Linked DNA regions of Homo sapiens. The protein of the gene in region 1 interacts with the protein of each later gene in a biochemical or structural test. Each region holds a gene or a part of one and is shown in the gene's direction. Other genes may lie near its edges.

Region 1 (7,019 bases):
CATCTCAGATGAAGCAGTCTTCCTTCTCCTGCCTGAATGAACACTATTGAGGTTAGGACCAATAACTGAAGCCGTATCTTGGATGGAAAAGGTGTGTCTGTGTGTGTATGTGTGTGTTCTGCCTTACCTTAAATATTGATAAAAAGTGAAGAAAGATACCTCAACTGTTGAGATTCCGAGATCGTGAATGACAGACCATAGTGAACTCTGGAACAGCCATTTAAAGAATGAGATAGCTCTCCATATGCTGAGAAGCAGTGATCTCTGCTGGGTGCTGTGGCTCATACTTGTAATCCCCGCACTTTGGGAGGCCGAGGAGGGCGGATCACGAGGTCAGGAGATCGAGGCCATCCTGGCTAACACCGTGAAATCCCACCTCTACTAAAAATACAAAAAATTAGCCAGGTGTGGTGGCACATGCCAGTAATCCCAGCTACTCAGGAGGCTGAGGCAGGAGAATCGCTTGAACCCAGGAGGCGGAGGTTGCAGTGAGCAGAGATCGCGCCACTGCACTGCAGCCTGGCAACAGAGCGAGACTCCATCTCAAAAAAAAAAAAAAAAGGTGATCTCGTGCTCACTTCAGCAGCACATATACTAAAATTGGAACGATACAGAGAAGATTAGTATGGCCCCTGCGCAAGGATGACATGCAAATTCGTGAAGTGTTCCATATTAAAAAAAAAAAGGTGCTGTCTAAGATATATAATTAAGTGAAATCTGCAGAATAGTGTGCTTCCATTTGTGTAAGGACAAAACATGGAAGGGAGCCTGTGGATGCATAGGCTGGACATATAGAGCACCTTGGCACCCACGATGAGAGTCAGAGCTGGTGAGAGACTTAGTACCCTGTGGGGTTGTTTTCCCTTGTGGTTATGTGGCCTTAAACAAAACTCTCTCTAAAGTAACGTACCTGCTTGAAGTGCAGTGGTGAGCCTGTGTGTGAGGAGGCTATGCCCTCATGGCAACAGCTACCCTTGGCAGAATCTGAACATCTCAGAGACATGGCCTGAGGATCCTCATGAGTTGTCTCTGCCACGGTGTGGGAGGCACTATTTAGACCTCCATTTACTTGAAGCCTAGTGTTCCTCAGGAATTCCTACATCTGCCTGTGGGAAAATGGTGATAGATTTCAAAGGCTCTCCAAGGTTCGATGTTTCCTTCTGAGTGCCATTTCAGCAACATAGGAATTTCGGTCTGTTTCTCCAAGGTGAAGGGCTTTCATTGCCCTGTTGCCTCTCTGTGGACTTCTGGCCAGGTGGCCCTACAGAAAAGCACCTTATTCTTTCTTGGCAGATCCAGTCATGGCTCCTGCCTCCCACCATGAGTCGGGATATTGGGGAAGCGAAGCAGATGCCAGAAGTCTTTCTGGTTTCCCAGGCCGAAGGAGCTTTCACACTAATAGCCTGTCCTTTTCAAGTCTGACAGAACTGGCAAGCAGGAACAATTTAGGTTTTTGGAAATATCCACAAACTCTTTGCTTCCATCCGGAGTGAATGCTTCTCTTCCTTCACAGGGGCTACCCTAAGAGGCTGGGAAGCCTCCCAGCCTGGGCTAGTGAGATCCCAGCCCAGATTCCAGGCCTGGATCTGGGGCCTTGAACAATGAGGATCCTTGTATCTCTCCCACAGAGAACACCTTCTGCAGTGGGGACCATGTGTCCTGGCACAGCCCTTTGGATAACAGTGAGTCAAGAATTCAGCACATGCTGCTGACAGAGGACCCACAGATGCAGCCCGTGCAGACACCCTTTGGGGTAGTTACCTTCCTCCAGGTGAGGCACAGGTTGGACGCTGGCTCAAGCCTTCCTGTGGGAAGGGTCCTGGGAGGACAAGGAGGCTTGAGGAGGGGGAGTGAAGGGAGTGGGAGGTTTCCTTTGGCCTCGTCCTGATTTCTGTTTCCTCTGATGGTTTGTCAGGTAGATTCAGATGGTCTGATTTAACCTGCTGAGATGGGAGAGGGGAGAAAGGGAAGGGGGCATTTGGTTGGGAGAGAATGGCTGTAGCTGAGAGGGAGTAATGGGGTGGCGGGTATTCTTTGAACAGTGAAGACCCAGTCTCAGGAACAGGACTTTCCAGCGGGAAGCCAGCTCTGGGTCGTCCTTGCTCTTTGCCAGAAGCTGTGGGAACCTGCCCAGCTTTGACCAGTGCTTGTTTTTGGTCACGAAGTCTATGTGAAGGTTCCACTGATTCCCTTGATATTTACACAAAGGCCTATCCCCTAATAAGGAAGGGAGGAGTTTCTCTGCAGGCTGCTATGACCTATTGGTGGTGGTTCCAAGCCTGATAGGTCTCAAAGTCTCTTGTTTACATTCCCCATGATACCAGACTGGGTAGGAATGGCTCCCTGAACCTCCCCTACTTCCAGAGACATGGCCTGAGGACACATCTTGAGTTGCTCAGGCCTTGGTTTTCTCCTTTGTAGCTAAGAGCTAGACTTGGTGTCATCCAGACACAGCAAGGGCAAGGGTCAGGCCTCAGGGCCCACATGTGGACCCAGCCATTTCCCAGCCAGGCAGCCACTCCCTCCTAAGGGAATCATCCAATCTTGGCTGCACCAGCTCCTGAGCACAGATCCTGCCTGTGGTCTCCCAACTGGAGGTGACTCAGAGAGCCTGGGTAGCTGACCTTCTTGGGGTGGGGGGTGGCCATTAACACACAATGGGCTTTCTATCCTGGGCCTCAGATCGTTGGTGTCTGCACTGAAGAGCTACACTCAGCCCAGCAGTGGAACGGGCAGGGCATCCTGGAGCTGCTGCGGACAGTGCCTATGTGAGTACCCATGCAAGGTGGGAGCGCGGCTCCCTGGGCCTGGGGGTGGGAGTCCCTCCACTACCCTCCATGTGGGGCTCCCTCTTGCGTTGTTATTTCAGACCCTGGTTTTTCACATCAGGGCTTCCTGACGACTCACTCCCTGACAGTCCCTGACCACGAACTATTCCCCTGTGTCCTAGGCCTGGGGCAGCAAACAGGGCAGGCTGTAGGCCCAGCCCATCAGCCCCAGACCCTCAGTTACCATTGTATCCCCTTTCCTTGTCCACAGTGCTGGCGGCCCCTGGCTGATAACTGACATGCGGAGGGGAGAGACCATATTTGAGATCGATCCACACCTGCAAGTATGTCTTGAGTGAGGAAAACCTTTCTAGCACCCTGTGCCTAGGCCTCTTCCAAATAACACTGGCTTTCATCCTGGGAAAACAGAGGACCTTTATGTGTGAGTGAGTAGAAATATGGCATCACTTGGAACTTGTCCCCTGAATTCTGCAGAGCACGTAGGGAGCAGAGGTTTCAGCCCAGGAAAGCTAGTCCTCAGACATATGTATTTTGGCATTTTAAAAGGATATTTTTATTGTATGTAAATTATATATTGGCTTAAAAAATTAGATTGCCAGCAATAAAAGATAAGTGTAGTGGATATTGCTTGCTTGCCCAGTATTCATTCTCCTGCCTCCCAGACTTTCTTTTAGGGAGCCACCACGGCCACCACCGCCCTGTACCAGACAGTAGTGTAGGTGATACTGACTCCATGGCTCAGCTGCAGGAGTGAGGGCTGATTGGTCTAATGGTCCTATCCCCATTTTCGCCACATTTTCTATCTTGGACAGTCAGATGCAGAGCTCCTAGCCTGGAAAGATTGGCACCTTAGACACACAGGCTGGCAGCTGCCCACTCCCTGTGGCCCACCTGGACATTGTTTCAGTGTCATCTTTGCTGTTTTAGAAGCATTCCTTTGTCATGCAGGTAAAGTTTGAAAGCCACAAGAACGTAACTGCCTTTTCTTTTTTTGAGACGGAGTTTCGCTCTTCTCACCCAGCCTGGAGTGCAGTGGCACAATCTCGGCTTACTGCAGCCTCCGCCTCCCAGGGTCAAGCAGTTCTCCTGCCTCAGCCTCCCGAGTAGCTGAGATTACAGGCGCCCACCACCACGCCCAGATAATTTTTTGTATTTTTAGTAGAGACAGGGTTTCACCATGTTGGCCAGGCTGGTCTCGAACTCTTGACCTCAGATGATCCGCCCGCCTCGGCCTCCCAAAGTGCTGGGATTACAGGTTTGAGCTAGTGCGCCTGGCCCATAACTGCCTTTCTTATGGGCTTCTCTTGAAGCAGGAGCCACAGACAGCTAATAATGTTACCTGCCTGGTGTCTGGCTCCTTCTACTCCCCTGACCAAATGCAGGTCATTGCCATCTCTAAACCTGCCATGCTTCTGTAAAATATCTGGTAGGCCACAGGCAGTTGCCGGGAGTTCCATGTGTTAGAGCAAGAGAAAGGTGGCAGATGGACATGTAGCCAGCAGCCCCTGAGTTCTTCACTGTAGACTTGTGAGTTCTTGGGCATAAATCCTCTTCATTCACAGATGATGCTCCTCTGTTTTCCTAGTGCCTTTAACACTGAACATTTCAAACTGCTGCCAGGATCCTCTGTTCTCTCTGCTTTAAACTTGGTTTCCTTGTATCTTCTGCATATGCAAGAACCAGGAACCAGGAAGGCTATCTTTCCCTAAGCCCTTGTTCTGTAGCCACACTGGGATCCAGCATGGGGCACTGTGGGCCGTTGTTTGGCCCCTGTCATAAGTGCCAAGTACTAAGAAAGAACCTGGTCCTTTGCACTAGTAGGGTAAACAGCTGTCCTTCCATGCCAAGGGCTGTTCTTCCTAGTCTGCAGGATCCCCTGAGAGCAGCCCACAGGACCCGGAGCACCTAGTGGTCTTTGAAAGCAAGCCAGGGTCCCACAGGAACAAAGGACAGCTTTCTTTCCTGGTGGCTCTGTGCACCAAGTGTGAACTCCTCTGTATTCACTGTGCCTTTCTGGGGCCTGCTTGCTATCAGTCTCTTTAGAGCTGGCATATATTCCTGTGATTCAAGCTCTACACTAACCAGCTGTGTGCCCAAATAAGTCCCTCGCCTTCTGGGTCTTAACTTTTTCTTTTTACTTATAAAGTAAATAGCCCAGACAAGTTGAGCCAAGAATTGTCTGTCTGCAACTCTTTACCTAAGTGAGGGACCCCAGGGCAGCCAGTGCAGAGGAAAAAGCTCAGACTATCCCCTGAGCACACCAGGGTATACATGCTCCCTGCCCAGAGTACACAGAGCGCTTCCCTGCTTAGCCTCTTCCTGCTCGGAACCCACAGCTTTGCCCAGGCCAGCATTAGCACTTGAAAGGAGGAGATGACTGATGGGAAGGAGGCGTCTGGGGCAGAGCCACTTGCTGACTGGTCCCAGGAAATAAGGACAGTACCTGTACTTCTCCCACATGGGGCTTCTGGGCTGATCAGCAGGCCAGTGTGGTACCTGTGGAGCCGGGAAGCACAGATTATTGTTGAGATGCTCAGTCACAAGCTTGATTTGGCCCACATGGACATAGAGCCTTCCAGATGACTTTTAATTCAAGGTCCAGCATCAATGAACTGTGTTTTACCAGAAAATCCAGGGATGTTTTGAGTACAACTCTTCCTTGAAGCCATTTGGAGAGTGTTTGTACTCAGCAGTACCAAGGCCTGCACAAAGGCAGGGTCTCGATGGGGAGAGAAGGGTGTCTGCAGATAGTCACTGCACTCTAGGCCCCCATTTCAGTCTAAGAAATGGGAAGGAATCTCCATCCAGAGTCCTTTGCTAAACAAGGGAACCAATGCATCTAGGGAAGTCCAGCCTTTGTTCTCCAGTGGCTCTTCCCTGTGTGACCACACCCTCTAGCTGTTAGAAGGGGAAACTGCAGGTGTGGCCTGTTGCCTGTGGCAGGCTTCCACCCTGTTTTCTATAGCAGTGACTGGGAGGTTCTGCCTGAAGATCGGGAGGAGAGGAAGGATCACACCTCTCCTCAGAGAAGTAGGCTCTCTCATGGCCACATCAGCCCCACCAGCCAGCGTGGCGGGGACAGGTTTGGGGCTCTGAAACAGGTAGAGGCCATTGTGCTGGAAGGCTGATGGTAGAAGAGATGTTTCCCTTGGGATTTGCATTCCTCCTGGCTTCCCCTAATCCCTGGTTCCCCTGGAGGAGTCCAGGAGCTGGCAGAGACCATCATGCATTGGTAACCAGGGCAGAACAAGGTCAGAGATCCTGCTCTCCAGCATTTGTCCCATGCTCAGCACCACAAGGGCTCAGTAAATACTGTAAGAGCAGTGGCTGAAAGGGTGGTCACCTTGGGTCACCAGTTCTCTGAAAGAACTCTGGCTCTTTGGTTCTTTTCAAGCAGGAGAGAGTTGACAAAGGCATCGAGACAGATGGCTCCAACCTGAGTGGTGTCAGTGCCAAGTGTGCCTGGGATGACCTGAGCCGGCCCCCCGAGGATGACGAGGACAGCCGGAGCATCTGCATCGGCACACAGCCCCGGCGACTCTCTGGCAAAGGTGGGAGCCATCACTCAGCATTCCACCAGCCTTCCTCCTTCCTTTTCCCCAGGGCCTGGTTTCCAGTCTCTCTAGGATGGGTCTCTAACAAAAACAACCCATTCAATAGTTTATTTCCTGGCATGATTTAAACAGCAAGTGAAGTCTTCCAGCAGGGCGGAATTAAGGGAGCTTTATTGGCCCATTCCTAGTTGTGTTTCCTGTGTGTATTTCAAATGCATCACCAGCAGGCACCGTTGTGTTTTAGATATGCCCTTTGCAATCTGAGGTCATGGAGGTGAGTGGAAGCCTCAGAACAGTTACAGGAAAAGTCCATAGTCCACCCAAGTGCAAGAGAAAAGTGTCGGCCACCCACGGAATTGACACAGGGCCCAGCTCTGGCCTGAAGGCCATGCCAGATCCAAGGATCACTCTGGCCTCGGGCCCTCCCAGGCCTTCAACAAATGAGGCCTGAGTGTGAGGCTGGCTTGCAAATTGCCCACCTCCTGTCATATAGATACAGGGTTAGGGGCTGTGGGCAGGGCCTCTGGACCCACCGTGTTCCGGATGGGGTCTTTGGGAAGGAGGATGTGGCTGTCCTGTTGGAATCTCCCTGTGCTGATCTTGGCTACAGAAACAGTTGTGGTTTTTAGTAGAGGGCGTCCCCAGCTAACTGCAAAGGAGAAGCAGCCACTTACAT
Region 2 (7,051 bases), on another chromosome or scaffold:
GCCTTGATCTTGGACTTTCCAGACTCCAGAACTGTGAGTAGTAAATTTCTGTCATTTATAAATTACCCAGTCTAGGGTGTTTTGTTATAGCAGCCTGAGTGGATGAAGACACAGGCTTTGTAGCCTAACCATGAAGCAGTACACCTATCTCAGAGCCTATCTAGTCTTCCACGGGTCTCCAGTTAGCCATGTGTAGCAGACTGTGTTTTCCAAAAACAGCCACAGCAACCTTTCTGCTCCCAGGTGCTTTTTCAGAATCATGCCACTCCCCCTCAAGAGATGGAGTCTAGCCTGGTGTGGTGGCTCATGCCTGTAATCCCAGCACTTTGGGAGGCCGAGGCAGGTGGATCACTTGAGGTCAGGAGTTTGAGACTAGCCTGGCCAACATAGTGAAACCCCATCTCTACTAAAAAATACAAAAATTAGCCAGGTGTAGTGGTGCGTGCCTGTAATCCCAGCTACTTGGGAGGCTGAGGCAGGAGAATCCTTTGAACCCTGGTGGCAGAGGTTGCAGTGAGCAGAGATGGCGCCACTGCACTCCAGCCTGGGCAACAGAGCAAGACTCGTCTGAAAAAAAAAAAAAGAAGAGAGATGGAGTCTATTTTCCCTCCCCTTAACCGAGGCAGATCTCTGTGTCTGCCCTGAAGAATAGAGTGCACTGACGTGATACGGTGTGCCTGCCGAGGTTTCATAGAAGACCAAAGGCCTTCTCCCTGGCTGGTTCTTGTTAAGCTCGCCCTGCATATTAGTTACCACCGTGCTATGAGGGACCCCAACTAGCCTGAGTAAAGAGACCACATGAAGAGGTGCATGGAAAGGAACTGAGGCCCCCCACCAGCCAACAGTCAGCACAGACCGCCAGGCAGCGGAGCCAGAGTCTTCAGAGGATCCCAGCCTCAGCCCTGAAGCTTTCCAGTGGAGGCCTGACACTGTGGAGCAGAGACAAACTGCCCCTGTTATACCTCGTTCAAAATCCTGATGTGCAGAAGCCACGAACATAAGAAATGGTTGTTTCCTTCCGTTGAGTTTGCGGGTGATTTGTTCTATGACTAGTCACTAGAATACGGGGAAATAATGAACAAGCTGCTTCCTTTTGGGCCTGGTTTTTCTCGTCATTCAGGCCCATTTCACAGAAAGGGAGAAGGAAGAACTGGAACACTCCACTTCCCCTTCTCCTAGTCCACCCTCCCTCATTCCTCATTCCTTCTTATCAGTGCAACCTCATCTCCCCAGGAAAGCGTTCTCCTTCTCTGTACCACTCCCCTCCCCAAGCTCACCTCCCAGCTTGCTCAGGTCTCCAATCACCGGCTCCCACAGCACGGTGGATTTTCCTTTACCCAGTTTGTGATTATATGTTTGTTTGTGGTTATTAATGAAACATAAGCTCCCTAAGGGGAAAGATCTTGTAGGTGTTGCTCACTGTGGTGTCGAGCCACTTAGCACAGTGCCTGGTACTGATTGAATGAACCAGACTGGCCAAAGGTCATACACTTAGTACCAGATCTGGGACTAGGACCTGGTGTCCCAGCGCTCAGTCGAAGGCTTCCCTGGCCACACCAGTTTGCCTCCACTCCAAACCTTCTGCTGCTTTTTTCAGCGCCCAAACTTCTGACCATCTAGAGATTCAGGCACGGTGTCTACAGAGTTCTCCTCCAACCAAAAAACATTCTGTCTTCATCTCGACAGCCATCTTCTTGCCAAAATAAGCCGGGAAAGGTTATGTGAGTGCCTGGAGTCCAGCAGGAGTTGAGCTGGTCTGAGAAGAAAAACAGAGAAGAAGGAAATATCCTAAAACATTGATTTGTTTAAACTTCTTCACAAACTTTACAACACAAGGAAATCAACAGAGACAAGCTCATAATGAAGTAATCAGCCAACGCGGCTAATATTCCAGCAATGAGAAATGATTCCCTACATGTCATGGGGCAGATATGAATAGGGTCATTAAAATATGGCCAAGGAGGGGAGGGAGAGTTTACTTTTTCTGTCTCCTTAGAGTCTGTGTTCTGAAAGCTCAGCAGGAATTTAAACAAATAGCACGGAGGAATGGTGAATCTGATCATCTTTAAAGAAAAAGCCCCTTTCAAACTTCTCTTTAAATCATTGGCTTATGCAAGTTTCGCTTTTTAAAAATGCTGCCGACCTTTTCCCCCCAAACAAAATTAGCATCAAATTGTTCTAATATTTTTCTGCATATTTTTTTCTCTAGGTCAAGAAGAAATTGTTGCTCCATCATATAAGTGAATGTCAGGAGGAGGAAGGAGGATCTTAAGGAATGAAGTTCTAATGCATCCTCTTTGATTAAAAAGTAAAAGAATAAAGTTAGCAGAGGATAAAAGGTATATGGAGAGAGCCACCCACAAAAAGGGTTGCACCGGTGAAATGGGCCTGTGTAGGTCACATCCCCTCAGGGAGGGTAGCATTGGGTCCCTTGCATTTCAAATAAAATGCAATTTTAGGAACAGGGGCTGAAGGGAGAGACACTTCCACCCACCTCAACAGGGCAATTTTTTAAAAATTTAATTTAATTAATTTATTTTTTTGAGACAGAGTCTCGCTCCATCACCCAGGCTGGAGTGCAGTGGCGCCATCATGGCTCACTGCAACCTCCATCTCCCAAGGGGTTTGAGAGATTCTCCAGCCTCAGTCTCCCAAGTAGCCGGGATTACAGGCGCGCGCTACTATCCCTGGCTAATTTTTTGTATTTTTAGTAGAGACGGGGTTTCACCATGTTGGCCAGGCTGGTCTTGAACTCCTGACCTCAGGTGATCCCCGTGCCTCGGCCTCCCAAAGTGCTAGGATTACAAGCGTGAGCCACCGCGCCCGGCCCAACAGGGCAAATTTAACTGAACTTACAGTACAACCACCCGAAGCTCTGGGAGGATGGCAGAGTGCTCTGACCTTAGACTAGTTACTTAACTTTTTAAAGCATCAGACTTCCCACCTGTAAAAACACGAGAAGAGAACCTTCCTTACAGAGCTGTGAAAGTCCAATAATACAAAGAAAATATAACATCACCTGGCACTTGGTAGAGTGTTCTACAAACGTTAGGAAGAATAAAACCAGAAATTCCCCCCAAGACCCTCTTCGGGTGAGGCCCAGGGGCCCTGGAGAGGGTGGCAGGCCCGGGGGTGTGGGGAGGACACTTTAGCCAGCTGCCCCCAATTCTCCTCCAAGCCTGGCGGCCCAGTTCCGGGCTGTGGTGTGGCTTGAGGGCCCAGGGCTCCTCACTGAGCTTGCTTAAGCAAGTTCTTTCACACACAGCCCCATATACACTTTGGCTAGAAAATTCAATGAGGAGTTTTTTCTTCCTTCTTTCTCTGTTGTTGTTGGGTTCTGATTACTTCCATCTGGCTTCAGCGGCTCGAGTGGAGTCTCTAAAACACACAACACAACAAAACAAAAACCCACCCTGCAAGCCACATGCACCAAACCTAGAAGGCTGCTTCGTTTCTCGCCAGCGTGTGCTCAGATGGCGACGAGGGCTAGCGGCGGCGGGGGACGCCTCAGGACCCCCGGCACCTGCGCTCGCTGCCCGCGGGAAGAGGGTCCGCGTGGACCCAGCCCCCGCGTCCCTTCTCTGGCGTCCCCGGCTTCCGCGCGGGCGTCCAGAGAAGCGGGCGCCCTGGGAACAGCGACCCAGGCATCTCCCCGAGGAGGGAAGTGGGAGGTGGGGAGGGCGGGGGGATTTCAGAGATTGAAAACAGAGCAGCCCTTGCCCCTCAGCTCCGGAGCTCATCTGACTTGAGTTAGCGACACCCCCAACCCCCCCCCCCACACCTAGTCGTCTAAAAAAAGTGTCGGAGATTGGCGCGTCCTTTGGTTCCTTTCTCGAACTTTCCTTGTAGGTGCGTTTTCTTTCCTTGGTGCTGGGTGGGGAGAGTCCCTGTGCTCCCCCTTTCCCCTCCCCCCGCCCCGGCGGCGTTCGGGTCCCCCTGCGTCCCCCGGCAGGGAGCGGGCGGGCTGGCTGGCGGGTTCTTGGGGCCCGGGTGTGCCCGCACCGTGCGCGCGGGGGCGCTGCGCAGTCCGGCGGCGCTGATGGATTGCAGAAGTGCCGGCGCTTGCCAGCCGAGGCAGCACGGCTCCGCGGACTTTTTTTCAAACTCCCATCAATGAGACTTCGAGGAGGAGCGGGCGGCGGCGGCGGCTGCGACTGCGAACGCGGAGGAAGGCCAGGAGCCGCAGGAGGAGCCGGAGGAAAGAGCTTGGGCCGCGCGGCGCGCCGCAGCCTCGGGGAGCCGCCTGCTCGCCGGCGGTAGGGGCTGCGCGGCGCCCGCCCGCCTCTCGGTCCCCTCTCTTGCCTGGCCCGCCCCGCCCCGGCTGGCTGGAGCCCCGGCACAAGGCAGCCAGCCGAGGGTCGCCGCGCCAGCCAAGGTGGGATGGGGGCCCACAGCCACCGCCCGGCGCCCGAGAGGCCACCTGCGTGCTAGAGGCAAACTTTTGTCTCTCTCGGTAAAGTTGCATTGGCCTTCTTTTGCTTGCTTTTCGTGACGAAGCGCCTCCCACCTCGGCCAAGCGCGGGCCGACTGGGATGCTGCGCCGTCTCGGGGGGTCCCTCGGCCGGGTACCGGCGCCTAGGCCTTGGGATCGGGGCCCTGGGCTTCGGGGGACTAGAGGCTAGTAGGCGCGACCCCGCCTGGGGCTCTGGACGAGCAGGGCGGGGACGTAAGGAGAGTCCTGGGGCTTGGAGCTCGTGGCCAGAGGTCGATGTTGCACCCTCTCCCTACCTGGGGGAGAGCACCACTCTTCTCGGGGTGCACAGCGAGCCGGCCTCCGCGCGCCGGCGGGGGTCTGTTTTTTCAGGGGGTGGAGGGTGGGATCGGAGGCTGGGATGCTCCGAAGCTGCCGTAGGTGGGCATGGGAGCGTGTCTGCGGGCGTACTGAGCGCGGAGGGGCTGCAGCCAGCCACTTGAGAACTTCGAACTCCACTTCTCCGCGCTGCGCGTCCCGGAGCCCTGCCTTTCTTTCTTCCTTCCTCAATCCTTCCTCCCCCTCGCCCGGCCCGGCCGCCCCCTCCCCCTCTGCTGGGCTCTCCTCCTCGGCCCCCCCTCTTTGCCTCTCTTCTCCTCCTCTCCTGCCCTCGGCCCTGAGATCCGCTTGACTTCCCAAAGGGATCCGCACGTAATCCTTTGCCGGGTCCTCCGGTTCCCCCTTCCACCTCACTTTCATCCCTGCCCCCCTACTCATCGTCTCTCCCCACCCCCGACAATCTCTCAACAAGTATATTTGCTGAGGAATTTGAAAAATCCACTACTGCAACTTGATCTGTATGTGATGGATGGGGAGAGGCGCGGAGAGAGTTGGGCGCCAATCCTATTAAGGGTTTAGAGAGGGGAGTCTTTTCCCCGGACGGGGCGGGGGCGGGGAGCTGGGAGGGAGCGTGTGCTTGCGTGTGTGAGTGTGAGCGCGCCCGCCGCGCTGGAGAGCTGGGAGTCCACCCAGCTCGGCGCCTTTTCAGCCCGGCGGTAACTGCTGTCATTTCCTAGGAAACCCGACTTTTACCGCGCGGGGAGCTGGGGATGGAGCCCGTGCGCCTCACCCTGGGTGATCGGTCGCTGAGGCTCTCGGGGACCTCGAGCCCCCCCGAGGGTGCCTCTTTCCACTACCTTCTCTTTTGTGTAATTGTTCTGTGGCTCCTAGAGTTGATCCCAGCTGGAAAAGTAGACCTGTCCCTACTGTCTGGTCCCGCGCCCTGGGAGTCTTGTAGGCGTCCCTCTGTCCCCCAGCCCGGGCATCCCGCTCGGTGCGCGACCTCTGGCACGGGCTTTGCAGCTCGGTGGCCGCAGCGGTGTCCCGGGCCCCCTCTCCGCCGCTCTTGCCGGGCGTGTGAAGGTTTAATCCCGACAGCTTCAGATAAAGGGAGCAGTTGTAAAACGCTCATAGGCTGTTTGCAGACGAGGCTCTGGGGGATGTAGGAGAATTTGAAAGTAAACGTTTCCCTCGCAAGCAGCATAAAATAGTGTTTAAACAAATATTGTATTGGCATGCTCAGGGGGCTCGGTGCCAAAAAGTAAAGTAAATAAACTGTGAAATCCAAAATATACAGCGGGGAAAGCGGAGGAATAGGCGGGTTTGTCACAGGCCTCCCTGATGAGACCAGTTTGTTCCAGCCACCTCACCTGCCAGCTTTCTCTCCGCCCATTTCCTTACCTTGCTGGGAGTTCCCTTGGCTGGGTTTCCCTGTGTCTGGGGACAGGCCCTCCCTGGGGCCTGGGAACGGCTTTGCAGTTGCTTGTTTAGGGGGAAGCTCACGGTGTGGCTACCTGGGCCTGACTCCACAGGGACGGGGGGCACCTTGGCTATGCCTGGCTGCTTTGAGTTTGGAGGCTCTTTATTTAGGCTTTTCCCAGCTTCTGGTCTGTCCTGGGGCAGTCATTCTAGAATGTGGAATCCAGATCCATCAGGGGCCTTCTCTTCTTTTTGACTATGCTTCTTGTGCCTCTTTCTTCATCGTTCTTGCTTTTGTTTTCCTAGACTTGCTGCTTCTCTCTTGAGGGTTACAGGAAATTGTGGAGATGTTTTTCCCTGGGATTCGAATTCCACTCAAGCCCAGCCATATGGAAAGTTGTCGCTTGTCTGATGAGTTTTAAAGTTAATTATATTTGGTAAGATTTAGGGTGGTTTTATTTTCTCCTCTGCTTCGAGAAATATGCCAGTTTCACGAAATTGTTTCGTGATTTTAGGGGATTTAAGCTAATACAGGGAAGATCCTGCATTTGAAAGAGCCCAGCTGCCCAGGAGGTATCCCTCAGGTGAACCAGCCTTCAGTTGGGCTAGCATCTGAGTGAGAGACTGTGGTCAGAACGGTCTATTTGCAAAGCCTCTTGGAGAGAATTAGAATTATAGGTAGAAAGAATTAGAATGATAGTAGAAAGAGCCTCCCAAGCCACCGAGGAACAAGGTAAGACTGCTAGAGATGGTTTTATCCTCTGTGGGAATCGATTTGACTGAATTTGCAGTGGGTTCAGATTCCTTCAGCAGAGACTTCCGGGCTGCTCCCAAACTCATTCTGCTCTGGCCTTGAAGGGGACTCTTGACTCGTGGCTTCCT
Region 3 (7,610 bases), on another chromosome or scaffold:
CTTGAGTATTTCAGCAAAAACACAATATAATATGGAATTAAATCTACTGAACACCTGGGTGTTCCATGATTTTAAGATGCATCAGACAATGTCTTTCTAGGCCATCTGTCACATTTACCACAATTACTGGGATCAATGGCATGTGAACTTTGTTCTCCTTGTGCGTCACTGGTGCTATAGGATGTTTTAGCTATTTACCACAACCACCATTACCCAACTTCAAGCAGCATGAAAACCTTTTACAAAAGGCTGTCTTTTTATAAGCAAATGTGAATTTCAAATTTAGTATAACCTATGTTAGCAAAGAAGAAAAAACTTTTCTTTTTACCTTTTTGCCACATTTTAAATTTATATACTGGTTTTCAGTGTGAATCTCAGTATGCCATAACTCAAATCTACCTCAGGTTGGAATATTATTCAAATATGTAACTATTTTACGTTATAGAATCCATTATTTCACCATAAGTTATTCATTGAAATAAATCATAAGAACAAGCAATTTGGGGGTTTTCTCCCTATATTCATCATTCCCTTCCCTCTATCCAATTCAGAATTAAATCCTGACAACTCCACATCAGAAATGTTTCTCAATAACAACCTTACTTCATTATTCCCAGAATGCCTACATTCTTTTTTTTGTTTTGCTTTTTGTTTTTTGAGATGGAGTTTTGCACTTGTTGCCCAGGCTGGAGTGCAATGGCACAATCTCAGCTCACTGCAACCCCTGCCTTCCAGGTTCAAGTGATTCTCCTGCCTCAGCCTCCTGAGTAGCTGGGATTACAGACATGCGCCACTGTGCCCAACTAATTTTTGTATTTTTAGTAGTGTGAGATTTCACCATGTTGGTCAGGCTGGTCTTGAACTCCTGACCTCAGGTGATCTGCCCGCTTTGACTTCCCAAAGTGCTGGGATCAAAGGCGTGAGCCATCACACCCGGCCCTAAATTCATACTTTTAAGGCTTCTCTATGGACCCTTTGAACAACTTTAACTGGTCTTCCTTCTAAGAGGTTGCTTCTCCTCTAGTCCGTATTCCACACAGTAGCCTGATTATCTTCCCAAAAACTGAACAAAATCCCTGTCCTCATGGAGCCTGTGTTCTAATTGAACAAACCAACAATTTTTAAAAATGTGATAATGAGCTATAAAGAAAATAAAAACGGTAAGAGGAAAGGGCAAAGGAGGGATTAACTTTAGATAGGTTGGTGACATTTGATAATAACAAATGCTAATGCCCTCTAGCTAAAGAGCAGCAGGAAAACAACTAGATTCAAACCAAGGTGGGTTTAATGTCTTGTTGCAGGGAGGCAGAGAGCAATGAGGAGCGAAGTTGGGCAGGAGCACTCTCAGTAAGAAGGTATTGGTATTGTGAAAAACATTACAGGAATGAGTGTGTTGTTAGGTGATTTTGGGGAAGTGTCAAGGTTTTGCTCTGGATTGGATGCTGGCAGGAAACAGGTGATCCTATAACTTAATATTTTAATATTTGCTATCTAGAAGGCAGGAAGAATGGATCAAGGCTAAGCCTGTAATTGGCCAAGAAACAGTGGTCACTTATATTAACCAGAATGTTTGGTCATTTTTGTGGTTTAGAGACTGTTCTTGTATTTGCTGTGTTCAGACATGATTGTGGAGGGGTCTTATTTTTGTCTTGCCTATTGTAGTCATAAAATGACTATAACTGATGTTGATGTTTTGTGGGACTGTTTATATTTGACAAAACAATGAGAACTGAGAATGCCAGGACAGCTGCCAGTACCACAAATGCCTAGCTAATAGTGCCAGTCCAGCTCCTGGCTGTCCGGAGTTGGTTTCCACTGCAACTCCACCCTCTCTGCCCCCCAACTAGCAAAGCCATCAGCTGCTACAACTGTCTCTATAATTCTAATTTATGACTCTTATTCATAATTCTGTATCTTTAACATTTACAACATTAGTATTATTATTTAGGGTACTGAGTTCCAAAACTCATTACAGCTCTCCTGATAATAGTAGTAGCTTATTTAATCACTGATGAACTATACAAGACTCTCTCTGCTATTTGCTGTGGTAAAGAAATAAAAAGAAGGGTTAGAGATAATCCTAAGCCTCAAAGAATCTGAAATTTTTTCTGGGGAGAACTAGTGGTGTGATGATGGTGGGTGATGAGAACAGACATGCAAAATATCTAAATTATAAAAAAACAAGTATCTTTTGTCAGCACAGAGTCCAATAGGTAGACCAAAGACAATTTGCTTGTGGTTGAATGGTTTAGGAACTGGGAGTAAGGAAACAAATATTGTAAATTTTAGCAACGACTTCAGAACTCTCAGAGTCAGTTGCTTCATCTCTAAAAACAAGAAGTTGAAGTTGGATGGTATGTGTAGTTCTGATACATTTGCATGGTGCCAGGCTGTCTGTACAGGAATCACATAGGGAGCCTGTTACCAGGTAGCGATTCGAGGGCCCCGTATCCAGAAAGCATAAAACATCCTAACTTTTTGAGATTCATCCATGCTTTTTCTCTTGTGTTGCTGAGTAGTATTTAATTAGATGAATATATCAGTTTATTAATCCGTTCTCCCACTGATGGACATCTGGGCAGTTTATAGTTTTTGGTGACCATGAATAAAGTTGTTACGGACATTTTTGTACATGTCTTTTTATCGATATATGCTTTTATTTCTCTGGATAAATACCTAGATGTGGGATTGCTGGCTCATAGGGAAGATGTGTATTTAACTTATATGAAATGTATAGGTCGCAATTTTTTTTAAGAGACTGTGTTTCGCTACGCTGCTCAAGATGGACTACGGTGGCTATTCACATGCATAATCATAACAAGCTGGGCTTAAGCGATCCTCACGCCTCACCAGCCCTGTTGTAGTTTGAATGATAGGTACCACCACATCTGGCTCTGACAGGTTCATATTTTTGACATAAAGTTACAAAACACTTTATAATACTCTTGCCTTTTGTGAAAGTGCAGCCTAGTAGAGATGTCAAAGGATCTGTAATAAGTCCTCAAGCACTGCTCTGGGGCCCTGGAAGATTCTCCTACAGGCAAATGGATGAAAGTTATGTGGATTATATGTGTACGTAAATGTCGTTCAGGCAATGCATTTGATAGTGAATAGCGTGTATGTCTGTGAAATCTTTTGACAAATATTTGCTTCTAGAATTCCACATAACTGTCATTAGGCTCTGAAAGGATCCCTGAATGTGACAGACTTAAGATTGGTCATTTCTGACAAAAAGGCCAGAATTAACAATTGTTTGACAGCATGTTTGAGAGCAGGCTGGGTGGGGCTGGCCACTATAGTGGGAATAGCAATGTAGGTTCCAACAGTGGTCTTCTCCAAGCCACTGGGCCTTGAATATTGCAATACTTCTTCCTCAGTCAGCTCTCTCAAGTTATCCTTAGCAGATTTTTTTTTAAACACCTGCCACTTCTCTTCCACCCTTCAGCAGGTAACCAAGCTCTATCTGAAGCAAAACAGAAACCAACAGAAAGGAACTCTTTCACCTTCCTGCTAGAAACATCCACCTCTCTGTATCCGTCCTTTATCTACCTTTCCTCATTCTCTGTAATCACAATGAAGAAAGTATCCTTCCTAAAGCACTCTCCATTCCACCTTCTCCTCTTATTTCTCTCACTAGAGTGGCTCATTCCCATGGTATTTGCCTCCTCTAATTTTTCGCTTGTGAAAGCTAACCTCTCCGCACCAGGTACCGCTCTAGCAGCTGCCCTAGCTCTTTAGCCTCGATATAGTCAAACCTTCTAAAGGACTGCCTGCATAGCTGTTTCCTCTTTCTCATCTGGATCACCAACGTTTGTCATATAGCAGGCACTGCACCGTCATGTTTAAAATATACAACAGACGGCTAGACAGGATTCCGAGGGTGTAGACAATAAAGTGATCTACAGTTTGTAGCCTGGGTGTTGAATGGCTCACTGGGTGGGGAAGCTGTTATCTTTCTGCTGTGCACAGGTAATTTGATATATGCTTTCATTCTGAAATAAAGTTGTGGAAAGGCAGTAGTACGCAACAATTAAGAAAACACAAGTGGGTAAACAGTGGTGCCGCACAACCAATCAACCCCTCACATGACTTCGGTGCGCATCACCCAGGGGCCGCATCTGCCACTCTGCCCGAAGCGCGGTCAGCGCCCACACTGGCCCTTCCGGCGGAACCCGCCTCGCGGCTTCGAAGTGGCCTCGGTTTCCGAGTCAGGGGTGGTGACAGGGGTGGAAGGTGAGGGGAAGAGCCCAGCGGCTCCCGGCCAATGGCAGCTCTTGAACTTACACCTCGAGACGTCAGCGCGGCTGTGTAAACGGATGTCACACAGCTGGCTCGGAAGTGTCTCCTCCCGCCTCAGAAACGCGGCGCACGCCCAGCAGCTTCGGAAAAACCTTAGGCGGTGGGAGGGAGGGGCGTGCGCCGCACCCCGCAAGCCCAGAGCTCCGTGCCCTAGCCGGCCGGCTTCTTCCCGTAGTGCCGGTGTGACGGCCGTCCCGGGTGAGCAGCCGGGTGCCGGCGTCCCCGCCACGAGCGCGCCACCGCAACTGGCTCCGCCCCCTGCCGGAACGGGCCGCGCGCTCCTGCGGCTCCGAGCAGAGTCGCGGGTGCGCGCGCCGGCGGCGGATCCGCAGTTAAAATGGTCCGAGCGGGACCCGGCCTTTCCCCGGCCGCTCCGCTGACTGACTGAGCCGGCTGGCCGGGCCCGGACTGGTCGCCTAGCCGGCAGGCTCGCTCGCTCCCTCCCTCGCGTCCCCAAAGCTCGCGCCCATCGTTCTCCCGGCTTCCCTGGGCAAAGCATGTAGCCCCCGTCGGGCACTCCGGCGGCCCGCAGCTGACGCCCACCCCCCACCGTCGCGTGTGTGCCCGTGTGTGCGTGTGTGTGCGCAGGAAGGGCGACCCCTCCGGGGGCCGAGCCAGCGAGCGGCCTGCCCCGCTGCCGGGAGCCCGCCTCTCTGGGTCTCCCTCCCTCCCGTCCCGGTCCCCCTCCTCGGGGCCTTCTATATGGGCCACCTTCTCTCGAAGGAGCCGCGTAACCGCCCGAGCCAGAAGAGGCCTCGCTGTTGCAGTTGGTGCCGCCGCCGGCGCCCTCTCCTCAGGCTGCCCCGCCGGACCCCAGCCAAGGTGCCCCCTCAGCCGGCGGCGCCCCGGAGCCGGGACTGCTTCTTCCGCGGGCCCTGCATGCTCTGCTTCATCGTGCACAGTCCCGGCGCGCCCGCCCCCGCCGGCCCAGAGGAGGAGCCGCCGCTCTCGCCGCCGCCGCGGGACGGGGCCTACGCTGCCGCCTCCTCCTCTCAGCACCTGGCGCGGCGCTACGCGGCCCTGGCCGCCGAGGACTGCGCCGCTGCTGCCCGCCGCTTCCTGCTATCCTCGGCCGCCGCCGCCGCCGCCGCTGCCGCCTCGGCTTCGTCGCCCGCCTCCTGCTGCAAAGAGTTGGGGCTGGCTGCGGCCGCCGCCTGGGAGCAGCAGGGCCGAAGTCTCTTCCTGGCCAGCTTGGGGCCGGTGCGCTTCCTGGGGCCGCCCGCCGCCGTGCAGCTCTTCCGGGGGCCGACACCGTCACCGGCCGAGCTCCCTACGCCCCCCGAAATGGTGTGCAAGCGGAAGGGGGCCGGGGTCCCCGCCTGCACCCCCTGCAAGCAGCCCCGCTGCGGCGGCGGGGGCTGCGGCGGCGGCGGCGGCGGCGGTGGCGGGGGAGGGCCTGCGGGGGGAGGCGCTTCGCCGCCCCGGCCCCCCGACGCCGGCTGCTGCCAGGCCCCGGAGCAGCCCCCGCAGCCGCTCTGCCCTCCGCCCTCTTCTCCCACCTCCGAAGGTGCCCCCACCGAAGCTGGCGGGGACGCTGTCCGAGCCGGGGGCACCGCCCCCTTGTCCGCCCAGCAGCAGCATGAATGTGGCGACGCGGACTGTCGGGAGTCCCCCGAAAACCCCTGCGACTGTCACAGGGAGCCGCCCCCCGAAACCCCAGACATCAACCAGCTGCCGCCGTCCATCCTGCTCAAGGTGGGTCTGGGCGAGAGGCGCAGGGATGCTCGCTTTCCCCCACCCCCGGCCCCCGCCTCCGAGGCTTTCTCTCTCCTCCCCCTAAGCGCGGAGGAGGGGGGTTCCCTGGCAGCCTAGGGACGTCCCAAGGGGAGACTGGGAAGCCAGTGGGGCCTCTGCCTATGGCCTATTTTTTGAAGTAGGAGCACTTGGAGTCTACTGAATGTCTTTTAATAGCTTGACTCTATAACCCACCATTCAGGGTTCAGCTATTATTAGAATCCCAACCCAGTGGTTTAGAAACTTCGCAGGTATTCTGTGGAAAAAAAAATTTTTTAATCGAGGAATTTATACTTAGTGGGTAAAGGCTTTGCATGTTGGTGTTTGAAAGTCTTTAAACATTACTTTCATGTTTGATGGCTGGTAGTTAATGTCAAACGGTTAACTTACTGAGCATTTACCATAATCAGGCACTGCGCCAGACTTTATATATATAATATCCCATTTATCTAGTTAACGCTTCGAGATAAATACTGTTAATATCTTTATTTTATACAGGAAGAAACTGATTTCTCCGTGCTGTGGGCCACGGTTTATAGTAGTGAGTCAGGCAGAAGTGGTCTTTGCTCCTGTGGAGCTGACAGTCTAGTGGGGCTTGAAGTGGTTGAATGACTTGTGCAAGGTCACATACAGAAAGTAAAGGGTAGATCTAGGTCTTGAATGAGGGAATTTAAGACCACCTGACTTAAAAACCTCTTTGTTTATGCTATGTTGTAATGCCCTTCTACATTTTAACCCTTGCATAAAAGCATACAGATTACCAGAGGTAAGCACAGATGTATTTTTTGTTGGGAGATGGGTGTCCTGCATGAAGTTTGTGTCATTTTCAACTACCAAGAATATTTTGCAGTTTTGTCAATGCTAGTGACAAACTTTAGTTACATAATAGAGTTTTTATTAAGTTATTATTAACTTTTTCCCTCCTTTTCTCTCTTCTCCCACCCTACCCTATTTGGAGCTTAATAAATATAAACCATTTTCATTGTGGATGATACTAGAGACTAGCCATAAATAACCTTGATAAGAATTTGGCTACTTTTACCGTTACTGAAGTAACTGTCATTAATTACAATTGTTATTGTCACCAATATAGTTTCTTTGACTAGACTTTTTGCATATTTACAGTACTGTGTGTTTGGGTCTGTTTTACAGTGATATTATTGTTCTTGTGAGTGATACAGCAAGAGGGTGGGAAAACTTACATTTCCTTGTGTCAAAATGTAATGATCTAATTCTTATGGAGGTCTACTTGTTGGAAGAGTAATTGCCTACTCTTTGTGTGCAGAGGTGCATTTTAGGACAAAGGGAACTTTCTTGAGTCCTTTAAATCACTGGGTGATATGGATAAATAAAATATCAACAAATATTTGGTATAGAAACTTGATTGCTGTCTTCTTATTTGGCAAATAAGACTGTTTCAAAATGAACCAAAACAAAGCCAGGTACCTTCTACTTACAAATTATTTCATGAGGTAAAAAACATTTTAATGCCGAGAAAAAAAAGGGACATGATCTCATAATAAAGAGAAACTCTAATAGAATAAAATAAACTTATCCTATACCGCGTTGTTCTCTTT

Evidence for each region.
Region 2: the proteins of SUFU (region 1) and GLI2 form a complex in vitro, tested with the Homo sapiens proteins (one study listed by BioGRID).
Region 3: of the proteins of SUFU (region 1) and FBXL17, one has a biochemical effect on the other in vitro, tested with the Homo sapiens proteins (2 studies listed by BioGRID, with this or other methods).

Annotation. Positions count from the first base shown.
Region 1 is NC_000010.11:102,590,954-102,597,972, forward strand, and holds part of SUFU (suppressor of fused homolog), read left to right. Parts: intron 1-1,628; coding exon 1,629-1,771; intron 1,772-2,682; coding exon 2,683-2,768; intron 2,769-3,039; coding exon 3,040-3,112; intron 3,113-6,183; coding exon of another isoform or gene 6,184-6,186; coding exon 6,187-6,340; intron 6,341-7,019. UniProt on the Homo sapiens protein: Negative regulator in the hedgehog/smoothened signaling pathway. Down-regulates GLI1-mediated transactivation of target genes. Down-regulates GLI2-mediated transactivation of target genes. Part of a corepressor complex that acts on DNA-bound GLI1.
Region 2 is NC_000002.12:120,731,833-120,738,883, forward strand, and holds the start of GLI2 (zinc finger protein GLI2), read left to right. Parts: upstream 1-4,035; 5' UTR 4,036-4,453; intron 4,454-4,728; exon of another isoform or gene 4,729-5,829; intron 5,830-7,051. UniProt on the Homo sapiens protein: Functions as a transcription regulator in the hedgehog (Hh) pathway. Functions as a transcriptional activator. May also function as transcriptional repressor. Requires STK36 for full transcriptional activator activity.
Region 3 is NC_000005.10:108,379,083-108,386,692, reverse strand, and holds the start of FBXL17 (F-box/LRR-repeat protein 17), read left to right. Parts: upstream 1-4,594; 5' UTR 4,595-5,001; coding exon 5,002-5,994; intron 5,995-7,610. UniProt on the Homo sapiens protein: Substrate-recognition component of the SCF(FBXL17) E3 ubiquitin ligase complex, a key component of a quality control pathway required to ensure functional dimerization of BTB domain-containing proteins (dimerization quality control, DQC).